Homo sapiens: one gene and its partners. The protein of the gene in region 1 purifies or fractionates together with the protein of each later gene. This does not show direct contact. Each region holds a gene or a part of one and is shown in the gene's direction. Other genes may lie near its edges. The genes, in order: SCCPDH, PAIP2, RAB4A, DNAJC11, CPT2, ATF6 and WAPL.

Region 1 (3,500 bases):
TAAGGAGTTGGGCACGTTGGCTCATACCTGTAATCTCAGCACTCTGGGAAGCCAAAGTGGGTGGATCACTTGAGGCCAGGAGTTTGAGGCCAGCCTGGCCAACATGGCGAAACCCCATCTCTACTAAAAATACAAAAATCAGCCAAGCATGGTGGTGCACGTCTGCAATCCCAGCTACTCAGAAGGCTGAGGCATGAGAATCACTTGAACCCAGGAGTTGGAGGTTGCAGTAAGCCAAGATTGCGCCACTGCACTCCAGCCTGGGCAACAGGGTCGGATCCTGTCTCAAAACAACAACAACAAACCTATTAAAGAACCAGAGGGCTGGGTGCGGTGGCTCACACCTGTAATCCCAGTGCTTTGGGAGGCCGAGGCAGGCGGATCACGAGGTCAAGAGATCGAGACCATCTTGGCCAACATGGTGAAACCCCATCTCTATTAAAAATACAAAAGTTAGCTGGGCGTGGTGGTGCACGCCTGTAGTCCCAGCTACTTGGGAGGCTGAGGCAAGAGAATCGCTTGAACCTGGGAGTCGGAGGTTGCAATGAGCCAAGATCATGCCACTGCACTCCAGCCTGGCGACAGAGTGGGACTCCGTCTCAAAAAAAAAAAACCCAGAGTATTTAAAGAACTTTTACAAGACAATAATAGAAATAAAGACAATTTATTTTAAAAATGGGCAGGGGATGTAATCCTAGCACTTTGGGAGGCCGAGGCACGTGGATCACCTGAGGTCAGGAGTTTGAGACCAGCCTGACCAACATGGAGAAACCCTGTCTCCACTAAAAATAGAAAATTAGCTGGGCGTGGTGGCAGGTGCTGTAAACCCAGCTACTCGGGAAGCTGAGGCAGCAGAATCGCTTGAACCCGCGAGGTGGAGGTTGCAGTGAGCCGAGTCTGCACCATCGCACTCCAGCCCGGGCAACAGTGCGAGACTCCGTCTCAAAACAAAACAAAACCAAAAAGGCAGGGATGAGAAGAGACAAATCTTCTTTGTGGAAGAATTCCAAATGATTTATGTAGCTTCTCCACATTTATGTGCAAGCAGCTGTGTGTGTGACTGAGTGTGTTAATGTGTTTGTATGTGTGTGACTATGTTAGTGTGACTTAATGTGTTTGTGTGTGCATGAGCAAGTGTGTGTGTGTGATTGTGTTCGTGTGTGTTTGTGTATGTGCATGAATGGGTGTGTGTGGTGTGTGTTTGTGTCTGGTATGTGCTTGAACAGGTGTGATTGTGTTTGTGTGTCACCTTCTGGGAGAGGGAGCATAAATTGACAGTGGAGAAACCTGGTGAACACTGCCTCAGCCAGGTGTTCAAGTCAGCATTAACCCTGGTAAATCATGTTGACAGTGCGTAGCCCCGATGTGATATGATATGATAAGAATAGCACTTTACCCCTGTGGTCTCTTTCCAAAACTCATAATAATAATGAGAAAAGCATGAGACAAATTCCAGTAGAGGGGCACTCTACAAAATGCCTGACCAGTACTCCTCAAAACCATCAAGGTCATCAGAGACAAGGAAAGTGTGAGAAACCGTCGCAGCCAAAAGAAGCCGAAGGAGACGTAACAACCGAATGTAATCCTGGATGGGATCCTGGAGCAGAAAAAGGGGTTCAGTTAAAACTAAGGGAATCAGAATGAACTGTGAACTTTAGTGAATTAAATCATATATGTCAGTACTGGTTCATTAATTGTAACCACTGTTCATGTAAAAGATGTTAAAAATAGAGAAAACTGGGTTTCAGAGTACTTGGGAACTCTCTACTATTCAATTTTTCTGTAAATCTTAAACTGTTTTTAAAAAGGAATTTCTAAAAACAGGCAGAAGAGCAGAGCAGACATTATTCCCCTGTGCCCTCTGCCACCATCTACTTTCCTGCTCTCTGTCTGTACGTGTGCGGAGCTTTATGTCTGTGATGATGTTCATCTGGGTAATGCTGTTTGGGGTCATTTTTTTTTTGCTTTCTATTTTTTATATTTTAATATTTTATAATAGGCATTACTTTTATATTTAAAAGTCATTCTAAAAAAATTAAGTGTCATACAGTCAGACGAGCACAACTTCTGTACCACCTGGTGTGCAGTAGGCGCTGTATTTGCCGAATAAGTGGAAAATATTTTGACAGTTAATGTTTTGCTGCAGAGCCACACTGCTTAGCATTTTCAAAGTTTGGTTGCTTTGTTTTTAAAGATAAATTATTTAATACTGGTCTACATCTTTCTGCATAACTAATTAAAATTCTTATCCTGGATTTTTTAGTTTCTGGAACTAATGCAACTGAAGTATCATGAGAAAGCTGCAGACAAAGGGGTTTATATCATTGGAAGCAGCGGCTTTGACTCCATTCCAGCAGATCTGGGAGTAATATATACCAGAAATAAAATGAATGGTAATTATTGATCAATAAGCAATAATGGAATTTAACAGTACCGTGCAAAGGCTTCATGTTTCTAACTGTGGTGAACTAAAATCTAGTTGAAAAAAGAAACATAGCCATAAATGGGTAATATTAAACACATGTTTTGTTTTTAATATAGCTGCACTTTTAATAAAATGCTATTGAGACTATTGTTGAGACATGGATAATACTGTATTTTACAGTGATATATTATTGTCTCAGTATAGTTTGGGCTGTAAAATTTCTGGAAAACAACTTTGGCAACGTTATAAATTCAAACTTGCTTTGTTTAGGAATCAGCACATTTTAAAGCATAATTTGTATATTATAGTTAAAAGGTTTTAAATTTTTAACCGTCAAAGCTAGAAAGTATTGAACACAGAATTGGAGACACTTATTTAAGAATGGAGAAAATAATGTTACGATAAAACATTTGAAGTTACTGATGTTTTGCATATTTAAGAGTGTCTGGTTTAGAAAATTACCTGAGCAGGGTGTGGTGGCTTACACCCATAATCTTAGCTACTTGGGAGGTTGAGGCAGCAGGATCTCTCGAGGCCAAGAGTTCAGGACCAGCCTGGGCAACATAGTAAGACTCGTCCCTAAGAAATAAAAAAAAATTAGCCAGGTGTGGTGGTGCACACCTGTAGTCAGTCCCAGCTCCTCAGGAGGCTGAGGTAGGAGGATCACTTGAACCCAGGAGTTTGAGGCTTTAGTAAGCTATGATTGCACCACTGCACTCTAGCCTGGGTTACAGAGTGAGACCTTGTCTCTTAGAAAAAAGCAAAAAAACAAAAAAACAAAAACAAAAAACAAAACTGAAACAGGTAACTTCAGTACCATATAAAGTGTTCTAGACTTAAAAAATTGGAAAATGTTCCAGCATATATTAAAAAGTTAGCATAACTATGAAACCAAAGTCCAACAAAGATAGCACACACACACACAAACTACAAATCTTGCTTATGAAATTAAAAGTAAAAAGAAAATACTATATAAAATTTTAATCCAGTGCCATTTTAAAAAGTTTTTTAAGAGACAGGATCTTGCTCTGCCGTAGCTCACCGTAACGAATGCCTGGGCTCAGGCAGTGCTCCC
Region 2 (3,500 bases), on another chromosome or scaffold:
TTTAACTGCCCTAAATATTTAATCACCGAGATAGTTAATGCCAATTGTTATGTGCTAGGTTCTCTAACTAGGTACTATTATTAATTCCCATGCAACAGATGAGGAAACCGAGACTCAGGTTAAGTAACTTGCCATGGTCACACAGTTAGTAAAGCAGCCTGGTTCCAGAGCCCATGGGTTTTTGTTGTTGTTGTTGTTGTTGTTGTTTTTGAAACGGAGTCTTGCTCTGTTGCCCAGGCTGGAGTGCAGTGGCGCGATCTCGGCTCACTGCACGCTCCACCTCCAGGGTTCATGCCATTCTTCTGCCTCAGCCTCCTGAGTAGCTGCACCCGACACCACACCTGGCTACTTTTGTTTTTGTATTTTTAATAGAGACGGGGTTTCACCGTGTTAGCCAGGATGGTCTCGATCTCCTGACCTCGTGATCCAACGGCCTTGGCCTCCCAAAGTGCTGGGATTACAGGTGTGAGCCACCGCGCCCAGCCCAGAGCCCATGTTTTTTAATCGTTACCTTACTGTGCCAAATAGTAAAACAAAAAATTCGGTGCTTTTCACAGACTTCAGAGTGGAAAACAGACCAATTGAAAAATGTTGCGATCCTCTTTAACTGCCAAAGGAAGTATGCTTAAACGTATATATGCGTAAAATACGATTAAAAAATATGCAAATAAGGTAAGGATCACAGTGGTTCAAAACAGAGTCCAAGGGAATGAGAAAAGATGGTGCCTATGGAGGTAGATTAATGAAAGAAACAGAAGAGAACTATGCTTGAATTTTTTTTTTTTTTTTTTTGAAACGGAGTCTTGCTCTGTTGCCCAGGCCTGAGTGCAGTGGCATGATCTCATTTCACTGCAAGCTCCACCTCCCGGGTTCATGCCATTCTCTTGCCTCAGCCTCCTGAGTAGCTGGGACTACAGACGCTTGCCACCATGCCTGGCTAATTTTTTGTATTTTTAGGAGAGATGGGGTTTCACCGTGTTAGCCAGGATGGTCTCAATCTCCTGACCTTGTGATCCGCCCACCTCGGCCTCCCAAAGTGCTGGGATTACAGGCGTGAGCCACCGCACCAGGCCTATATTTGAATTTTAATGAGAATTCTTAAAAGATGAAACTAGTGGAGAAAGATTGTAAAACCTAAAAGATTTCTGTATTTTAAAATTCCATAGACAATATAAAAGGACACTGCTGGAAACCAATATGTCTAAGAGGCATTTCAGGAGGGGAAAAACAGCTGAAGACACAATAAAGCCCTAAGTTGATAAATTGAAAGGGTTTGCTGACTTCCAGGCAGTAGTACTGGGAAAAAATTGCTCTTACCTATCCAAAATCTGGTGAAATATATGAATTTGTTAAAACATCTTAAGCTGTCGTCTAGAACAGGATTTTTAAATTTTTATTTATTTTTTTGAGACGGAGATTTGCTCTGTCACCAGGCCGGAGTGCAGTGGCGCAATCTTGGCTCACTGCAACCTCCGCCTCCCAGGTTCCAGTGATTCTCCTGCCTCAGCCTCCCCAGTAGCTGGGACTACAAGCATGTGCCACCACGCCCAGCTAATGTTTGTATTTTTAGAGACGGGGTTTCACCATGTTGGCCAGGATGGTCTCAATCTCTTGACCTCATGATCCACCCCCTTGGCCTCCCAAAGTGTTGGGATTACAGGCGTGAGCCACCGCACCTGGCCTATTTTTATTTTTTGAGATGCAGTCTCCCTCTGATGCTCAGGTTGGAATGCAGTGGCACCATCTCAGCTCACTGCAACCTCTGCCTCCCAGGTTCAAGCAATTCTCCTGCCTCAGCCTCCCGAGTAGCTGGGACTACAAGCGTGCACCTCCATGTCCAGCTAATTTTTGCATTTTTAGAGACGGGGTTTCGCCCAAGTTGGCCAGGATGGCCTCAATCTCTTGACCTCGTGATCCACCCCCTTTGGCCTCCCAAAGTGCTGGGCGTGAGCTGCTGCGCCCAGCTTATTTTTATTTTTTGAGATGCAGTCTCAGTCTGTTGCTCAGGCTGGAATGCACCATCTCAGCTCACTGCAACCTCTGCCTCCCAGGTTCAAGCAGTGCTCCTGCCTCAGGCTCCCGAGTAGCTGGGACTACAGCTGTGCGCCACCATGCCTGGCTTAGTTTTTGTATTACTAGAGATGGGGTTTCACCATGTTGGCCAGGGCCGGTCTCAAACTCCTCACCTCAAGTGATCCACCTCCCTTGGCCTCCTAAAGTGCTAGGATTATAGGTGTGAGCCACTGCACCCAGCCTAGAACAGGATTTTTAAAAGGAAAGAAAATTGATTTTCTACAACATTGAAAGTTGGAATTATTGACAATAGATTATCAACAGGAAGCACAGACATCTCAGAATTCTGTTACAACTAATTTTTTTTTTAGCACATTTACATGGAAATACTCATGTTACAACTTTTTTTTTTTTTTTTTTTTTTTAAGACACAGTTCCGCTCTGTCGCCCAGGCTGGAGTGCAGTGGCGCGATCTTGGCTCACTGCTACCTCCACCTCCCGAGTTCAAGCGATTCTCCTGCCTCAGCCTCCTGAGTAGCTGACACTACAGGCGCCCACCACCATGCCCGGCTAATTTTTGTATTTTTGGTAGAGGCAAGGTTTCACCATATTGGCCGGGCTTTTCTAGAACTCCTGACCTCAAATGATCCACCCACCTTGGCCTCCCAAAGTGGTGGGATTACAGGCCTGAGCCACCACGCCAGGCCATACAACATTTTTATTCAAACATGAAGGCAAAAGATGTTTTGTAGCATTAGGAGATACACCTAATGCTAAATGACGAGTTAATGGGTGCAGCACACCAGCATGGCACATGTATACATATGTAACTAACCTGCACATTGTGCACATGTACCCTAAAACTTAAAGTATAATAATAATTTTTAAAAAACTGTGGTACATCCATAAAAAAAAAAAAGATGTTTTGGACACTGGCTTAGAATGATAAATCCTCAGGTAGCCTTTTGAACTATTTTACAAAGATAGGAAGTTAGGGGAAGATGATGAATATAAGAAACAACTCGGCCAGTGTGGTGGCTCATATCTGTAATCCCAGCACTTCGGGAGGCCGAGGTGGGCGGATCACCTGAGTTCAGGAGTTCTAGACGAGCCTGGCCAACATAGTGAAACCCCATCTCTACTAAAAATACAGAAATTAGCCAGGCACAGGCATGGTGTTACACACTTGTAATTCCAGCTACTCAGGAGGCAGAGGTTGCAGTGACCCGAGATCGTGCAGCTGCACTTTAGCCTGGGCAACAGAGTGAGACTCCATGTCAAAAAAAAAAAAAAAAAAACTACGAGTGATGAATTTATTTATTTATTTATTTATATTTTTTGAGACAGGGTCTTGCTGTGTCACCCAGGCTGGGGTGCAGTGGCGTGATCTTGGCTCACTGCAGCCTCTGCCTCCCAGGCTCGAGCAATTCTCCTGCTTCAGCCTTCTGAGTAGCTGGGACAACAGGGGACCACCACCAAGCCTGGCT
Region 3 (3,500 bases), about 17 Mb from region 1:
TGCCATACCTGGCTAATTTTTTGTAGAGACAGGGTCTCTCTCTCTTACCCAGGCTGGTCTCAAACTCCTGGCCTCAAGCAGTCCTCCCTCCTGGGCCTCCTAAAGTGCTGGGATTATAGGTGTCCGGCCACTAATGGGAAAAATCTCACAAAGAGGGTGAGATTGACAATGTAGGGGAAAACATGTATGACCAAAAGACGCCTTCTTGAATGTGAGAGTGGATATGACATACTGGGACACTCAGTTTTCCCGTAGTAATAGGGCAGGGATGCAGGTGGGTGTAGGGCCGTGGTGACTATGGATTCCTGTGGTGACTATGGATTCCACCGCGCCGAGAGGTGGCGAGAACTGGAAGAGATGGAGAAAATTGTGCCAGGGAGTGGGGTAGATGAGGAGCTCGCAGAGAAGTGAGTGGATTGCTGAGCCCCTTAGTGTCCATCTAGGGGGTGGTGCTGGCTTCCGCAGACAGCTCACCCTGCTAGGAGTTCTCAAAGGAGACATCCATCAGAGAGCTGCATCCGCTGTGAAGGAATCTCCTACTTGCCACAGTGATGTGATTTCAGGCAGAATAACCCCTCACATGTATGTTCAAATATCTTTGAATCATTTCTCTTTTAAACCAGTGTCTGTCCCTGTGTTGTGGTTTACAAAGCAAGCATGGGTGTTTTTTCATGGGAAAGTGGGATACAGTAAAGGGTCTCAATTGGTTGAAAGTAAAACCAGTATAATTCTTCCAGGTCCGTGACGAGAAGTTATTACCGAGGCGCGGCCGGGGCTCTCCTCGTCTATGATATCACCAGGTAATGCCAGCTCCCCCTGGTGAAGGAGGGTGCTCAGTGCCCTGCAGCCCAAAGGCTGGTCTTGGCGAGGTGCCCTCCGTGCAGTGTGTGCTTTGTGTGTCCAGGGACGGTGGTGTGGCTGGCATCCAGGAAGCCCCTTAGCCCTTCCATCTGGGGTCTCAGAGGTCTTTGAACGAGCCCCTACCACTGCTTTCCCCTGCAGAGAAATGTGTTTGTAAGGTTTTAGGTGGATAAAGCAATCCATGCTATTACATTACATTTCTTGACATGATGCTTGGACACTTTCCTTAAGGTTCACAAAGCTTTATGTATGGAAAGTTATTAGAAGTGAGTTGAGAGAGGGTGAGGACACAGACTCTGGGCTGAGATTGCTGGGTTCAAATCCCAGTTGCAGTCACTAGCTGATTGACCCTCTCAGGCCAGGTGCTTCAGCTGCCTGGGCCTTAGTTTCCTTGTCTGTAAGATGGAGATAGTAATAATCACATGATCCTCAGGAGGTTATTGGGAGGTTTAAATTAGTTAATGTGAAGCAGTTAGTAGCTGTTTGTGACATATGGCAATTTAACTGAAATAAAAAATTCTGTTCCTCGATTGCACTGGCCACATTTCAGGTCCTCAGTAGCTACATGTGGCTGGTGACTACCATATCAGGACAGATTATAGAACATTCCTATCCATGAGGAAATCACATTCAGCAGTGCTGATCTCAGTAGCACTGTCTTAGAAATGTGTCATCTAAATGGCATCATCTGGGGGCCCTTTCTGGGTAGGAACCTGTCCAGTGAGAGGATGTCACTCAGCAGCCGCTTCCCTCTTCCAATCTGTGTCCCGGGAGCCAGGCGTTCTGAGAGGAGGAAGGCAGTTTCTGGCCCAGCCCTTCCTGCACTTGCCCAGGCAGTGAAAGGCTCAGCCTGCTAAAGTGTGAAGTCATCAATCAGGCTAGCAAAGTGCCATGAGAAGAACTCAATCCTTAGACACATGAGGGCCAAAAATAGTAAGTCTGAGAGTTGGTCCTGGAGTCAGACAGAGCTGGTCAAGTCCTGACTTTGCCACTGGCTGCTGTATGACCTAGGGCAACGTAATTAATCTCTCTGGGCCTTGGATTTCTCAGAGAAAAGGGGAATAATGGCAGTCTGTGTCATGGAATCTTTATAAAGAATCAATGTGATAAAGTCCTGTAAAACAAAGTGCTGGCACATTGCAAGGATTCATTAAGTGGCAGCAATTAGCTATGAAATCTTGCCTACCAGAGTCTAGTGCCTTGCGCATGCTAAGAGCTCAATAGATATTTGTCAATTGAATGAAGGAACATCTCTTTCCTTTTGCCCCATGACTGGGCAAACGAAAAATAACAAAATATCTCACTTGCTGTCTCATTTTACCAGAAACAAAATGGAACAAACTGTGGGTATGGTATATACTTGGTGCATTCACGTTGTCTGAGTTATCTTAAAGGTGTTGGTGCCATTACCCTGAAATGTTGAAAAGCGGTATGAGTAGTGAGAATGACTGGAAAGAGTTGCTAGTTTTATAAAATACATGTATTATTTTCACAATCTTATATTACGCAGCCGAGAAACCTACAATGCGCTTACTAATTGGTTAACAGATGCCCGAATGCTAGCGAGCCAGAACATTGTGATCATCCTTTGTGGAAACAAGAAGGACCTGGATGCAGATCGTGAAGTTACCTTCTTAGAAGCCTCCAGATTTGCTCAAGAAAATGGCAAGTGACCTTTTACTTCTTACTATTTTTCAAATCGCATATTTGAGGATAATAGCATTTCTTTGAATTTAAAACATATATTGGAATTTCAAGATTAAACTAGATTTAGGAAATGTGGAATTTCCAATTGTTTTTTTCTATAAATTAGACCTATTAAGCATATTTTTAGTATATTGCATTCTGCCTGCAGAAGTTACTATAATGATAAAAGCAAATGTAGTAACATTATGTAATGACTTTTCAGTCTAGGGTCTTTGAATATTAGAGATCTTGGGCTAAAGTGAAATTAATAATATTTAAAGACTCTAACCAAATGATGTCATTATTTTTTAATGTATTTTGAAGGAAATTTGGTGAAATATTAACCCAAATAGAAAGGGAAGCGGAAGAAGAAATACTTGGCTTTTTGGCTTCATTTTAAGTCATTTGGTTATAGACAACTTTGAAACTTTTTTGAATTTCCATATAGAATACATGAAAATGCCACATAAAATTAATGGTTGCTTAATTAATGGATAAGAGAATGATTTTTTAAAACTTCAGACATTTTAAATAACTTTAATTTTTAGAACCAAAAACTAGAATCCTAATATCAATATTTGGACTCTAAGATTCCAAATTATATTGTAACTTGACTAGTTTCTTGCTAAGAAAATAAACATGAGAGAAATCCATATGCCATCATGACAGTTTTTAAAAAGCTGTTTAGAAATCAGAAGTTTAGAATGTTAACAAAGATGAAAAGGAATTTAGATGTCATCTAAACTCATTTTTACAAGTGAGGATACAAGAGGCTAGAGAGGCCATGGTTTGCTGAGAGAGCAAGCAGAACAGGCCTTTCTGCTGAGATGAACAGCCACTCTGGTGGGTAGAAAGAGTATTAATTCCTATACTGTCTCTTCATGGGCTGTATGACAGATTGCAATATAGTCCCCTAAAAAGTGTAAACACTTGTAGGTCATATTTGTGGTGAC
Region 4 (3,500 bases), about 240 Mb from region 1:
TTGGTGATTCTGACTTGCACTCCTCGGCCCCCATCCATTCTAACTTGAGTGGGGTTGCATCTGCTGGCATAGGAATGCAGACAGTCAGGTGCCTATTTGGTTGTAGCTAAAGTTAGGGCGGCTGAGGGGAGTCGGGAGGTTACTAGGAAGATTCTGGCTAGGACCCTCCCCCTCTGTGTGGATAGAGGCCTGACCTCCTGCTTTTTTTTTTACTGGGAGCTGGCCCAGGGATGCATAGACGTGACAGTAAGTGAGGTCTTAGCCAGGCAGAGAGGAAGTAACAGAACAGCTGAGAGCAGGTGCTATCCAGGACCTATTCTGTCTCTGTGTCTCTCCAGCTTTGTGACAACAAACTGTGCTCTGCAGTTTTCATCCCGTGGAATCCGACCCGGCCTGACCACTGTCCTAGCTCGGAACCTAGACAAGAACACCGTGGGCTACCTGCAGTGGCGATGGGGTATCCAGTCAGCCATGAACACTAGCATCGTCCGAGACACTAAAACCAGCCACTTCACTGTGGCCCTGCAGGTGAGCCGAGCAGCCATCATCTCCTGCAGACAGAGCTCTGGGAGGACCCCTCCTCCCAAGCACTCAGTGCTCCCCTTAAATCCTGCGTCCTGATCACCACTAAGTCTAAGCCCATACAGGGCCCTGAGGGGCAGGCTCTCGGTGCTCACACTCGAGTGACCTGGTGGAACCTTCGAGTATGAAATGCAGTTGCCTTCAGGCGCCTGGGGCAGCTTTGTTGGATCATCTTAAAGCAGAACAACATCTTAATGTCTGGTGGGAGCCACCCACGGAATTGGGGGCGGGCAGATGAAGCCCCATAGCAGAATCATGCCCTCGGACGCCCCTGTGGCCACACCAGGGCTGGTACATGAGAAGCCCCACACGGGCCACTGCTCCTTGGCTCTCACCAGCCGCTGCCACCTAGGAGCATAGGCTCAGTGTCACCAGAGTTTTTTATTTCTTGTGAGAAGCTAGAAAACTGGGTTTTCAGTGAAGTCTCCCACTTTTTAATTACTGGCTGCTAATAAATCATGGTGCACTCACTGCGGCTGCCAGACCGTGACCCCTGCCTTAAAGGCCTGTGTGCAGCAGATGCCCAGAGCTAGTGGGAGGGCAGATACCCATCTCCCCACAGAGTCACACGCCCTAGCCACGCATCCTTGCACCCTCTGTCTCCCCAGCTGGGAATCCCTCACTCCTTTGCACTGATCAGCTATCAGCACAAATTCCAAGATGACGATCAGACTCGTGTGAAAGGATCCCTCAAGTAAGTCCTGGCCTGGCTAAAATGGAAGCACACTGGTACTGCATGCGGGTCTTCACAGTGGAACCAGTTGGTGTAAGACACCTTGCTCGTGTGAATATCTACGTGTGTGTGACATTTTTGGAGAGCTTCCTATTTTGAGGCTGTGGGGGATTTAACACTACAGTCCCAGCCCTTGAGGAGCTTAGAGAGTGTTGTGGAAGAACTAGACCATGGGTGTCCCAACTTTCTTCTGTCATGAATCTGCTCCCTGGGGGTCGAGGAGGCTGGAGGGAGGGAAGGGAAGGTACCTGGCCTCTTCTCAAATGACAGCTGCCCCTGAAGTGATGAATGAGGGGCACAGGCACAGACCGCGTTCTCTCCCTGCAGAGCAGGCTTCTTTGGGACGGTGGTGGAGTACGGAGCTGAGAGGAAGATCTCCAGGCACAGCGTTTTGGGTGCAGCTGTCAGCGTTGGAGTTCCACAGGGTGTTTCTCTCAAAGTCAAGTAAGTTGAACTTAGGCCTTTCGGGTCAAGGAATGCCTGTCACCTTCACTCAACCAGGCTTTACCCAAGTTAAGGCTGAAATAGCCTTTGCATTGTAATTTTGTTCTTAAAGACACAGTTGCTTGGCTAGGTGCAGTGGCTTATGCCTGTAATCCCAGCACTTTAGGAGGCCAAGGCGGCCGGATCGCCTGAGGTCAGGAGTTTGAGACCAGCCTGGCCAACGTGGTGAAACCCCATCTCTACTGAAAATACAAAAATTAGCCAGACGTGGTGGCACACGCCTATAATCCCAGCTATTTGGGAGGCCGAGGCAGGAGAATTGCTTGAACCCGAAGGCGGAGGTTGCAGTGAGCTGAGATGGAGATCGTGCCACTGCACTCCAGCCTGGAGGACAGTGAGACTCCGTCTCAAAAAATATAAAAAAAAAAATTCAGCCAGGTGCCGTGGATCACGAGGTCAGGAGATCGAGACCATCCTGGCTAACATGGTGAAACCCCATCTCTACTAAAAATACAAAAAATTAGCCAGGGGTGGTGGCGGGTGCCTGTAGTCCCAGGTACTCGGGAGGCTGAGGCAGGAGAATCGCTTGAACCCAGGAGGCGGAGCTTGCAGTGAGCCAGGATCGCTCCATTGCACTCCAGCCCGGGTGACAGAGTGAGACTCCATCTCAAAAAAAAAATACAGTTGCTTGTGTCTTTGCTGAGTAAGCAAATGTCAAGCAGTGCATAGTTCCAACACCGAGTGAGTGAGGTGTACGTCTGAGCTCCAGCAGCCTCGCCTGATGTCACAGGATGCATCCTAGCAGCCCAGTCCTCCTGGAGTCACTGGCCTGGCAGCTATCCCCCGGGCACAGCATCTCCAGTAGCAGCTGCCATATCGGTTCATCCCTCTCACCAGGGGTTTCCATTGGCACACATACCCTTGCTCCACCTGAGTCTAGTCACTGTCCTCTCCTTAGTTCCTCAAAAGAGTTGTCTGGTTTTGGCCGGGCACTGTGGCTCACACCTGTAATCCCAGCACTTTGGGAGGCCAAGGCGGGCAGATCACGAGGTCAGGAGATTGAGACCATCCTGGCTAACACGGTGAAACCCCGTCTCTACTAAAAATACAAAAAATTAACCGGGCGTGGTGGCGGGCGCCTGTAGTCTCTGCTACTTGGGAGGCTGAGGCAGGAGAATGGTGTGAACCCGGGAGGCAGAGCTTGCAGTGAGTCGAGATGGCGCCACTGCACTCCAGCCTGGGCATCAGAGCGAGACTCCACTCAAAAAAAAAAAAAAAAATGTCTGTTTTCGCTTGCATCCGTCTTCTTTCTTTCTAAACGTGCTCCAGTCAGGCCTCTCCAGCAAAACCAGCCCTCTCCAGAATCAGCCTTTCTCACCTCATCAGTGGGGCACCCTCCCTCCTGTGGCAGATCAGAGGGTGATTCTTCTTCATCTCATTTGGTCTCTGCACCTGCTGTCGCGGTGGCCGTTCCCTCCTGCCCTTACAGCCTCTCTGCCCTGAGTTTCCAGGATACCACGCCCTGCTCTGGCTTTCCGTACCAGATGGCTGCTGTCTCCCAAACCCCTAAATGGAGGCACCACTGCAGGGCACAGCCCTTCTCTCTCGACTCACTCCCAAGCAGTCATGTCCAGCCTCATGGCTCTCATGCCCTGAGGACTCACGTTGCAAGTGCCAGCTTGGACCACCCCCTCAATCTCCAGCTCATATATTTGTCCAGCTTTCTCTTCCTAATCTCTAC
Region 5 (3,500 bases), about 190 Mb from region 1:
AGTATATCTTATATTAGGCTTTTAAACTGCTTTATGTATCATGTTTCAGTTTTCCTAAATGACTGATACATTTCAGTATTTTGCATATCAGTGTTAATTTTGAGTTGGTAGAGGCAGCCTAACAAACTCTGATTGTTTTGCTATTAGGGGATATTTCCTTCAATAAAACCAATGAATTGAAAGAGAAAATACACCTCACTTTACTGTCCATGTGTTTTCATTTCACAATAAGCCAGTAACTTCATCACCATAGCCATCTTTGGGAATCACTAGTAGACAGAATGATAAGTAGGCAAATTGCTGTTCCTGTTATTTAAGCACAGGGACTATTTGGTTCTTCCTAATGGCGTTCCTGGTATCTGGGCATGGCTCACTGGTCGATTCCTACCTTTTAGTGACTGTAGCCCCCATATATGGCTGGCCCTTGGACAGATCTGTGTTTCACTCTTATATAATTATTTGTTGTAAAATGCAGAAGAAAATTTAAAAAATAGAACCTTTTCATTTTATCCTAGGGGAGAAAAATGCAGTTGTTCAAACTAAGGGTAGAATTAAATCAGGGCCAATACAGTGTTAGCACAGGTGTTATCATTGTGACCAGAAAACAGGAATTCTTGGGGCAGCTTCTGCTTCCCCATTTTGAATCTATTATTGTTATTTAAAATAATTATATTTGTATTTTACTTAAAGATTTAGTTGTTATTTTACTTAAAAGTAGAGTTACCATTGATATACTTGGCATTAGTAAACCCATTGATTCTGATTTGTCAGTCGCTTCTGATTATTGGTTTTGGGGGAGGAAATTAATGATCTAGTAATCAGTTCATTAGCTTGTAAAGCTAATTAACCTCTTCCATATACTGTCAGCCTTACACTGACCCTGCTTTCTCCCCAGGCTGCCTATTCCCAAACTTGAAGACACCATTAGGAGATACCTCAGTGCACAGAAGCCTCTCTTGAATGATGGCCAGTTCAGGTAAACACTGAGAACCTTGGGTGAGCATAGTTGGGGTGGTTCAAGACAGGCTGGCAAGTAGTGGTGGACCAAGCTTCAGGGAATGTCTGTGACGTGGCTGGGTCTCCAGGAACCCAGAACCTAGTTGTACATCTGCAAGTTCAGGAAATAGATTTTCATTCATGAAGGACTGACCAAGCCCCGAGAGTTCCTCTAAACAGGCTCAACAGGAGATAGTTTATAAGCCAGAATGCCAAATGTGTACTTTCCCTTAGCAGGTGTACCTGGGAGGCTCGCTGGTCCTGGTCATTTATAGAGAGCATGTACCCTTGGAAGGGAGGTCCATTGAGGAGACCATACGGCAGACCAGAAGTCTGCATCGTGAGCATGTTTATTGAGTTGGATAGCATGCCTCCAAAATTTATGCCCTTTTTCATGAAATTTAGTATATGATCTTATTTGGAATTAGGGTTGTGGCAGATGTAATTAGTTAAGATGAGGTCCTACTGGAGTATTGTGGGTCCTTAATTAAATATGACTGGTGTCCTTGTAAGAAGACACAGAGACAGCGGTGTGAGGACACAGGCAGAGATTGTGTCCTCTGCCTGTGTCAACAAGCCAAGGCATGCCAGGGATTGCTGGCAACACCAGAATCTAAGAGAAAGCCATGCAACAGATTCTTCCCCAGTCTTCAGAGAAGATATAGTCCTACTGACACCTGGATTTTGTCCTTAAAGCTTCCAGAACTGTGAGAGAATAAATTTCTGTTGTTTTCAGCCACCCAGTTTGTGGTGTTTTGTTATAGCAGTCCTAGGAAGCAAATACAGCATGGAATTGGAAAATAATATCAAATATTGTCAAAAAGTGGATTGCATTAAGCTCTTATAGCCTAGTGTAGTACTCTTTTTCCATAATGGAAATTTTTCTGTACAGGTAACTGGCATTGTTGTTGGAATCACAGAACTCTTCACTGGACAGTGATGGAGAAGCAGATGAATTATCCATAATCTAGGCCTCTGTTTTCAAATATTTGTTATTAGTCATTTAAAGTTTCTCTTGATATGGTAATAGCTACCAGTTATTGAGTATTATGTTTTAGGATATTCTAAATCCTTAGCTTTATAAATATTTTTAATCTTGTAAAGTGGTATTATTATCCATTTTACACATCAAGAAACCGAGACTCAGATCAAGTAACTTATCCAAGATCACACAGTTTGAAAAGCAACAGAGCTAGGATTCAGACTTAACTTCTGTTGACTCCAGAGCTTGTGTCCTTTTCTCCATGCCAAACTGCCTCCTAGGATATGGATTATTTTGTGAGATGTTGATTGATTTTCCTAATCATTCATTTTAAGAAGGTAGTCTAGATTATCAATTTTAGATTGATTCCTGTTCTGGTTAGAGGTACTTTCTGATCTCATTCCAGGTTTTAGGGCTATGCTGTTGGGGACCCAAAACTCTATTATGAGTTCCTCGCCATGAACCTAAAAATCATGTATTCCCTACCATGGTTTGATTTTGTCTTTTCTTGAATGTTTTAGGAAAACAGAACAATTTTGCAAGAGTTTTGAAAATGGGATTGGAAAAGAACTGCATGAGCAGCTGGTTGCTCTGGACAAACAGAATAAACATACAAGCTACATTTCGGGTAGGTAGGCTGGGCTGTGGGTATGATTTCTCCCAGAGCCCTCCATAATGAAAAGTAAGGCATATTCTCTCCTGTTTTGGTCTCAGAGATATTTTTGGTGAGACCAGCAAATGAAGTAACGTCTCATCCTCCCTTCCTGAGGTAAATTAAGGCTGAGTGTGTTCCTCCTCTACTGAGGTGTTGACTTGAGCCCATGCTCAAGAATGATGGCCAGCCTTCTCTGTAGATGGGATTGAGGCAGAACCTAATCAATGGTCCTGTCTGAAAAGGATGCAGGATTAAGTCCTATGTCCTATATCATTCTGGGTCCTTCACTGTCAGACAGAACTGTCCTCTCCAGCCTCTTCTCTCACCACCCACCCTGACATACTTCCTGCTAAACTCCTCATTGCTCCCTGAACCCTTAGTCTTTCATTCTTTTGTGCCTTTATCCATGCTGTTCCCACTACCATTTTTTTGCCTGGCAAATTCTTCTTTTAAGATCCAAGGAGGATGGTTTTCTGTGAAACCTTCTCAGTCCTTTTTCCTTTCCATTCAGAGTTGGTTGCTTCCACCTCTGTTCCTACAGCACTTCTTTTAATTTAGTTTATATATTTACCAAGGTTATACATGCATATAGTTTAAAGAATCAGACAGTTCTATAAGGCTTGTTAGGAAAAACAGCAACTTCCTCATCATCTTATTTCCCACTTCTCACTTTCAGCTCCTAAATCTTTTGTTATATACCCCCGTATCTCTAAATTAGATACTTACCTTACTGCATCTTGATTTTTTTGCTTTAGTCATTAGCTATTGACATCTCACTGTAGAAGATTAGAATTCAGCAGTACTTTACATCCCACCACATATGTGGGATGTGTATACACATACTTCCTATCCCCTTATTTTCACAGC
Region 6 (3,500 bases), about 85 Mb from region 1:
CTATGCCTAGCATTTTTGTTACGTGCATGGATCTGCAAAGGAATTGTGGTTTGTTTCACAGCTGCATGTAGCAGGCATATGTGTGACATATTTTTATTTCAGCTATTATTTCCTGTTTTTTATTTTCAGCATGTTGGAACAGGATTCCAGGAGAATGAACCCTAGTGTGAGCCCTGCAAATCAAAGGAGGCACCTTCTAGGATTTTCTGCTAAAGAGGCACAGGACACATCAGATGGTATTATCCAGAAAAACAGCTACAGGTAAGATGGCATGCATCTATCTTTTGGCCTAAGTGATTTAATGAAGCTGAAACAAGAGAATTATCTGTAGTATAACATTGCATCTAAATTGTTCGTGTATATTTTGAGTAGTAGAACACATAAATTACTGAAACCATTAATACATTTTACTTTTAATATTGTAAAATTAAATTTACTTTGAAACCTTTTGTAGTTTTAAAATTCCTATAGAGATGTAATCTTAAAATCTCAGTTTGTGTGCATTAATATACATATTGAAATATATACATATTATATATAATGTCTTTAATAATTATTTTATCTATCATGTGTTTATACATATAATACATCTAATATTTGTTACTGTCTCACCTGTGGATGGATATGATATGGTGGAATAACATGATTGAACCTATTTGCAGTCATTAGGTAAAATCATTTATACTCATTTATTGTGATCTTTGTTGAATCCCTCCCTTGTTGCAATTTAATAATGACTTGATAAATTTCCATATTGCTTGTCAATAGCAAAAGGCTTTAATTGTATAAAAATGCAATTTCTATATTATGTTAACTAGAAGAAGGTATAGTGGACATTTTTATAGTTGTATACTTTTTGATAAACATTTCCCTGTGTTATTTAGAATTTGTATTAGAGCCAAATGGAGCCAGGTCCTTGACTAACAAGGCAAAGGGAGGTCACAGTATGGTAACTATTGCACAGTATAATGCTTGAAAATTATTACAGATTTGTTTACTTTTATCTCTTTAAGGATTTGTAGGTTGAGGGCAATCTTTCTTCCTGATTTTTACTGTGTTACATCCATACTGTTGAAAGATGATCACCACAATCCTGCAGGCTTGTCTCCACTTAGCCTTCCTGAAAAAACTGTTATTTTTGTGGAGTACAGTATGCCAAGTCAGTGGAGGACCCAAAGGATTTTATGGCAGTAGCTGCAACGCAACATAGCAATGATAGATGTCATAATGTTGGAAAACATAGCATTTCCTGCTTTTTTACATGCCAAAATTCATCATACTTCTTAAAATATTCACCTTGATGATCTCTTAACGGTGCCCCTGAATATTGGTAGAGTTTAATAGTATATTTAATTTTCATAAGTAATTTGTGCAGGTTTGCCCTACGTGTTCTATAATTTTGAATTCTGTTAGTGTCCACATAAGATCCATCAAAAATTAAATTTAAATCTAATAGCCTTTGGATTTACGAGAGTTGAGATAGCGTCTTGCTAAAGAATAGAACAAGTTATGGATTGAATGCTTGAAATTACAGTTCAGGTAAGCTTTACAAGAATATTATTTATTCTGCACTAACTGCAGCAAGTAGAAGCCTTCCACATTAGCATAAGATAACATGGTGGCTCCCAGAAAGCATAGTAGTCTGATCATACTAGTTCAAACTAAAAGTCTGAATGACTTTCTGGCTGAAATTTATCAGCTTTCAGAGTAGTACATGGGATGCAAGCTATTTTTTCCCTCCCTTCTCCAAAGTCACCATTGAGTGAATAATCTGGGTTACTGGTCTTGGGGAAAAAAAAAAACCAAAAAACAACCCAGGAAAGATTATGGATTCTTGATTCCATGCAAGTCCTTTGAAATATTTTTCAGCAACTTGAGAGATTTAAATAAATGTCAGTCCATTAATTTGATGTTCTTGATTTTATCAGTATAAATACTGAATAAAAGATACCAAAAAATGTTTGTGAAACATTTGAAAGCACCTAATATTACTTTGTTCTGTGTTCTGAACTGAATTTTAGATGTTTTATCTATTTTCAGCCGTGATACCTATACATTTTTTTTAATGCAGCTTACTTTATGTTTCTTTTTCTAAGGAGAGCTATGAGACATGGTTCAAATAAAAAATGAGTAGATTCTAATCCCATAGTTTATAATATTGTATTAGCCTATCATTTAGTAATTAACTGCTTATATTTTTTCAGTCATAGAAATGTGTGGCATATAAATAGTATGACCATATAATGTTCTATCAAACTGGGACACTCTTAAGAAGGAAAGGTAGTGCTAGTAATAATTACATCAGAATACCAGTACTGCTGTCTTGGATAAATGAGAAAGGATGGTCACCCTATATAAGATGTCACCCAGAACTGATCTTTACTCCAAGAATTCTCATTAACTCTAGCTCCCTAGCACTGTCCTTTACTTTATTTACTTTAATGATTTATTTGTTGAATTTTTTTCTCTTGGCATAAAATGTTTGCAAGCAGACTCGAACTCTGACTGTTCCTGGGCTAATGTTGGTCTAATTGTCTCCAGATTGTATGTTGGCTGATTTTCTCTCTCCTTTAACTCCACCCAATCCTTGTCCTGGTATTTCTCCTATCAGACTTTTTTTTTTTTTTTCCAAAGAATATTTTTGGCTGATAGAACAAAGCCAGTTAGCACAGATGTGCAGAAATCATTACTAGAGTTCAGATCACAAATATATTTTCAAAAGCAGTTTTGGACTTTTCTCATGGACTACAGTGTTTGTATTTTTCTAAGTATGCAGGCATGATTTTTAAAATAATGCGTATGTCATAGATTTATAAGAAGAGGTGTTAAGCAGCCTCCTCTTAGAGGCATTCAGATTTATCAAACACAAGACAGATACTTTTTTTCCTTCTCACTCAATGCTTCATTTTAGGCTGATCCTTTTGTGTTTGCATTCATTACCTGTGCACCAACATGTCTGTTTTATTCCAAACAACTTAAACCTACTTAACCCTTACAGCCACAAGAGAGGACATTGAGAATATTCCTGGTGCAAGTTGCAGGGAAGAATGTTCTATATATCCTCTGCTATTGTTTCTTTTCTCTCGTGTGTGGCATAAATAGCTATCTCTAACTTTTAACTTGAAGTTAGCCTTCCACTCTGCCAGAGTTATTTCTGTTAAGGGGCCAGTGCTTTCTGCCATCTTACTTGCCCTTTCCTCAGCATTTGGCTGTGTGGGTCATTTGCTCCTTGAAAGACTTTCCTTTTGTGTTACTATGGTTTTTTAGTTTCCTTTTTTTATTGGCTGCTGCTTCACAGTAATCTTTGTGGGCTCTTTTTTTACCCAACTCTCAAGGTTTGGAACTGTAAACTTTTTTTATTTTCTTTCTGCCTAGGTGACTCATCTATAATTTCATGCACAGTTCATATCTATATGTCCTGATGACTCTCAAATTTATGTTTTCAGTCCAGACTTCTCTTCTGAGTCTCCAGAGTCACATATCCAATAGTCTCTTTGACA
Region 7 (3,500 bases), on another chromosome or scaffold:
TGACATTTCTTTTTTTTCTTTTTTTTTTTTGAGATGAAGTCTCGCTCTTGTCCCCCCAGGCTGGAGTGCGATGGCGCTATCTTGGCTCACTGCAACCTCCGCCTCTCGGGTTCAAGCAATTCTCCTGCCCCAGTCCCCCCGAGTAGCTGGGATTTTAGGCACCTGCCACCATGCCCTGCTAATTTTTGTATTTTTAGTAGAGACGGCGTTTCACCATGTTGGCCCGGCTGGTCTAGAACTCCTGACCTCATGTGATCCACCCGCCTTGGCCTCCCCAAGTGCTGGGAATATAGGCGTGAGCCACTGTGCCCAGCCTGACATTTCTTGATGTTTTCAGATAATCTACAGTGTGGGGTGGGTGGGCCGGAGGAAGTAAGATTAAACTGTGCAAGTGGTGAAAGTGCTCAGGGCTGACTCCATCTTCCTTAAGTGTATGGTCTTTTGAGGAATGGGGCATCATTGGCAGGCAGGGGCCCTGATGGCAGAGTGTATTAATAAAGTTGAACGTTTAGGTAAGGGGGAAAAGGAATGTGGAAGTTATTCATAAGTAATTGTTTCTGTAGCTTTGCGGACAATATATCTTTATGTTAAATCTGTTGTTGGAAGTTGGTTGGTGAGACCAACCAGCTAAGTGGGATAATTGCTTCCCAGTCTATGTAGCTAAAATGTAGTTCTAATGCTGATACTGTGGACTGACTCTGAGTCCAAACTCCATTTTAATTGGTCTGTGAGGGGAAAATACATACTAAAATACAGGTAAATAGATGTTCAGGAACATCTTGTCCATCTTCCTTCCTCCTTCACAAAGGGTCTCTTAGTGGTCAGGGAATGGTGTAGCACTATGAATATTTCTTTTTTTCTCCTCTCCCTTGGTCATCCAGAGTTGCAACAACCTTGGCAGCTCCCTGTAGGATAAGAAGTGAATTTGAGGGAGTGCATTTAATTTTCATGGTAGACTTATCCTGTCTCTAATGTGTGCAAGTTAGTTGTTCTTATAAACCATTTGTAAGTTTGTATGTTTGTAAGTTTGTTATAGTTGTGGGGATGCTTTTGTACTTTGTGACTTTTCCTTTGTCTCTCCCCTCTAAACTGGTCATTTCTCTTGTGCCTAGACTGTTTTCTTGCATTATGTCTGTCAATTTTCATTGCCTTTACTCTCACTCAGAAAACCTTGTAATTTTAATTGAAATTTAGAAACCCAAACCTAAATTTTTGATAAAAGAGGCCTCTCTAAATCTCAAGTGGTTCCTAACCTTTTTTGCTTTAGGGACCCTTCTGAGAATGATAAAGTTTTGAACTCTTTTCTCCAGATGCAAGTATTCATGTACCTACTTGGGTCTCAGAAATCTTAGCAGTCTTTTGCAGGTCATGGTTAGGCATTTTATTTAAAAACCTGTTGCAAATTTTAACAACTCATTCAAAGTGCACAGGTGAAGTTCCGTCATATCTTTCCAGTGGAGTGTTGAGTGTCCTTCTCGTTCATACTATTTTTTTGCTGTAGAATTATATCACCTCAGTGAAAAGGGCTTATCCAGGCTCAGAATTATTATGTCATTTGTCCTGGCATTACGTTTTTAAGTGCATCTCTTTCTCTATAGGGGAGTATGTGGTTGATTTTTTTGACACTGTTAAAATTCTTTAAGTACTTTTATAACGGATAGTACTTTTAAAAATTTTGTTGCGGGTGTGGCGGCTCATGCCTGTCATCCCAGCACTTTGGGGGAGGTTCAGGAGTTCGAGACCAGCCTGACCAACATGGTGAAACCCCGTCTTTACTAAAAAAAATACAAAAATTAACCAGGTGTGGTGGCGCATGTCTGTAATCCCAGCTACTCAGGACACTGAGGCGGGAACTGCTTGAACCCCGGAGGTGAAGGTTGCAGTGAGCTGAGATTATGCCACCGCACTCCAGCCTGGGTGACAGAGCAAGACTCCAACTCAATAAATAAGTAAATAAATAAATTGTGTTTCACTTGAAGAGGAAACTTAGGATGAGGTCACTATAAAACATACAGTGGCTGTAATCCAGCACTTTGGGAGGCCGAGGCGGGTGAATCGCTTGAGGTCAGGAGTTCGAGACCAGCCTGGCCAACATAGTGAAACCCCCATCTCTACTAAAAATACAAAAAAATTAGCGGAAATTGCTTGAATCGGGGAGGTAGAGGTTGCAGTGAGCCGAGGTGGTGCCACTGCACTCCAACTTGGGCAACAGAGCGAGACTCCATCTCAAAAAACAAAAACAAAAAAACCCCGCAAAACCTACAGTAGTTCCCATTTTCCAGACAGATGCTTGGTGGGTAAGGGAACCAGAAACAAGATTACAAACTGAATAGGTACTGCAGGGAAGGGTTGTGTTGCTAAAATGTCCTGTTCCTTAAACAAGAAGAAAACGTTTATTATGAAACTTTTCAGGCACACAAAAATAGAATGGTAAAAAAAAACCTCATGTACTTGATTGTCCACCTCCAATAGTTGTATCTGGCAGATCTTGTTGCATCTGTTTTGCACGCTACTCTCTCCACTTCCCATCCTTTACTCCCTGGATTTTAAAGCTAGTTTAAGATTTCTGTTTCTATCTGCAAATACTTCTGTATCTAATCTTTAATTTTGAAAACAGAAATTTCTGATTGCAGTTGCTATTAAAGCCAGTCAGTTCTCAGCCAGGTGTGCCAATTAAAAATGACTGTTAGCAGGAGCTAAAGGTCCACCCTTCTAAGAGATCTCCAGGTATTCCTTAATGGTTTGAATCAATGCCGTCGGTAGTAGAGGCAAAAAGAAGGCTTCTCTTGCCTTTTATGCAAGGCTACTTCCATTTCTCATCTTTGTTCTGCTACAGGTTTTTAATCTGGACTCTAGAATAAAGTGTGCAAAGACTTATATTTCGGCTTGGCACACTTTTCTTGCCAGCCAGCTGGGATTCAGTCTACATATCCTGCCAAATATTGAGATAACTACAGCATAGGCTCTTAATTTGCCTGACTGGTTTTGTAGCCAATAAATTTTTTTAATTTGCTTAAAGCTGTAATGAGTATTTGTGTAAGTTAGAGGGATGGTATTGTCAGGAGATTTTGAACTTGGATTTAGAACTGAAGGTGATTTTTTAGAAAGGGAAATGTTTTATTACTGAAAGTTTAAAGTAGGACAGGAACTTGTGATCTGAGATGAGATTGTCATTGGATAAAGTACAGATGATATGAGGATTATTATTATTTTTTAAGTCCTGAAAGGATAGTATCAGCAAGAGTTACCTGCCTTTATTTATTGAATGTATTTGTTGTGTAGAATATATTTAAATCATACCGAAAATCAGCTTCTTTTTAAGAGAAGTGGATAAGACCTATTATTTCTTTTTTTATTTTTATTTTTATTTTTTGGAGACAGGGTCTTACTCTCTCATCCAGGCTGGAGTGCATGGCTTATCACAGGTTCTACCTCCTGGGCTGAAGCCATCTTCCCTCCTCGGCCTCCCCAGTAGTTGGGAGTACAATGGTTCACCACCA

What was found.
Region 2: the proteins of SCCPDH (region 1) and PAIP2 purify together in Homo sapiens (affinity purification with mass spectrometry; 3 studies listed by BioGRID and IntAct, with this or other methods). This does not show direct contact.
Region 3: the proteins of SCCPDH (region 1) and RAB4A purify together in Homo sapiens (affinity purification with mass spectrometry; 3 studies listed by BioGRID and IntAct, with this or other methods). This does not show direct contact.
Region 4: the proteins of SCCPDH (region 1) and DNAJC11 fractionate together in Homo sapiens (co-fractionation; one large-scale study listed by BioGRID). This does not show direct contact.
Region 5: the proteins of SCCPDH (region 1) and CPT2 fractionate together in Homo sapiens (co-fractionation; one large-scale study listed by BioGRID). This does not show direct contact.
Region 6: the proteins of SCCPDH (region 1) and ATF6 purify together in Homo sapiens (co-immunoprecipitation; one large-scale study listed by IntAct). This does not show direct contact.
Region 7: the proteins of SCCPDH (region 1) and WAPL purify together in Homo sapiens (affinity purification with mass spectrometry; 3 studies listed by BioGRID and IntAct, with this or other methods). This does not show direct contact.

What each region holds. Positions count from the first base shown.
Region 1 is NC_000001.11:246,737,909-246,741,408, forward strand, and holds part of SCCPDH (saccharopine dehydrogenase-like oxidoreductase), read left to right. Parts: intron 1-2,263; coding exon 2,264-2,393; intron 2,394-3,500.
Region 2 is NC_000005.10:139,344,854-139,348,353, forward strand, and holds part of PAIP2 (polyadenylate-binding protein-interacting protein 2), read left to right. Parts: intron 1-3,500. UniProt on the Homo sapiens protein: Acts as a repressor in the regulation of translation initiation of poly(A)-containing mRNAs. Its inhibitory activity on translation is mediated via its action on PABPC1.
Region 3 is NC_000001.11:229,295,111-229,298,610, forward strand, and holds part of RAB4A (ras-related protein Rab-4A), read left to right. Parts: intron 1-737; coding exon 738-800; intron 801-2,371; coding exon 2,372-2,526; intron 2,527-3,500. UniProt on the Homo sapiens protein: The small GTPases Rab are key regulators of intracellular membrane trafficking, from the formation of transport vesicles to their fusion with membranes.
Region 4 is NC_000001.11:6,642,817-6,646,316, reverse strand, and holds part of DNAJC11 (dnaJ homolog subfamily C member 11), read left to right. Parts: intron 1-338; coding exon 339-528; intron 529-1,190; coding exon 1,191-1,276; intron 1,277-1,642; coding exon 1,643-1,759; intron 1,760-3,500.
Region 5 is NC_000001.11:53,199,824-53,203,323, forward strand, and holds part of CPT2 (carnitine O-palmitoyltransferase 2, mitochondrial isoform 1 precursor), read left to right. Parts: intron 1-895; coding exon 896-976; intron 977-2,499; coding exon 2,500-2,606; intron 2,607-3,500. UniProt on the Homo sapiens protein: Involved in the intramitochondrial synthesis of acylcarnitines from accumulated acyl-CoA metabolites.
Region 6 is NC_000001.11:161,846,320-161,849,819, forward strand, and holds part of ATF6 (cyclic AMP-dependent transcription factor ATF-6 alpha), read left to right. Parts: intron 1-129; coding exon 130-261; intron 262-3,500.
Region 7 is NC_000010.11:86,511,793-86,515,292, reverse strand, and holds part of WAPL (wings apart-like protein homolog), read left to right. Parts: intron 1-3,500. UniProt on the Homo sapiens protein: Regulator of sister chromatid cohesion in mitosis which negatively regulates cohesin association with chromatin. Involved in both sister chromatid cohesion during interphase and sister-chromatid resolution during early stages of mitosis.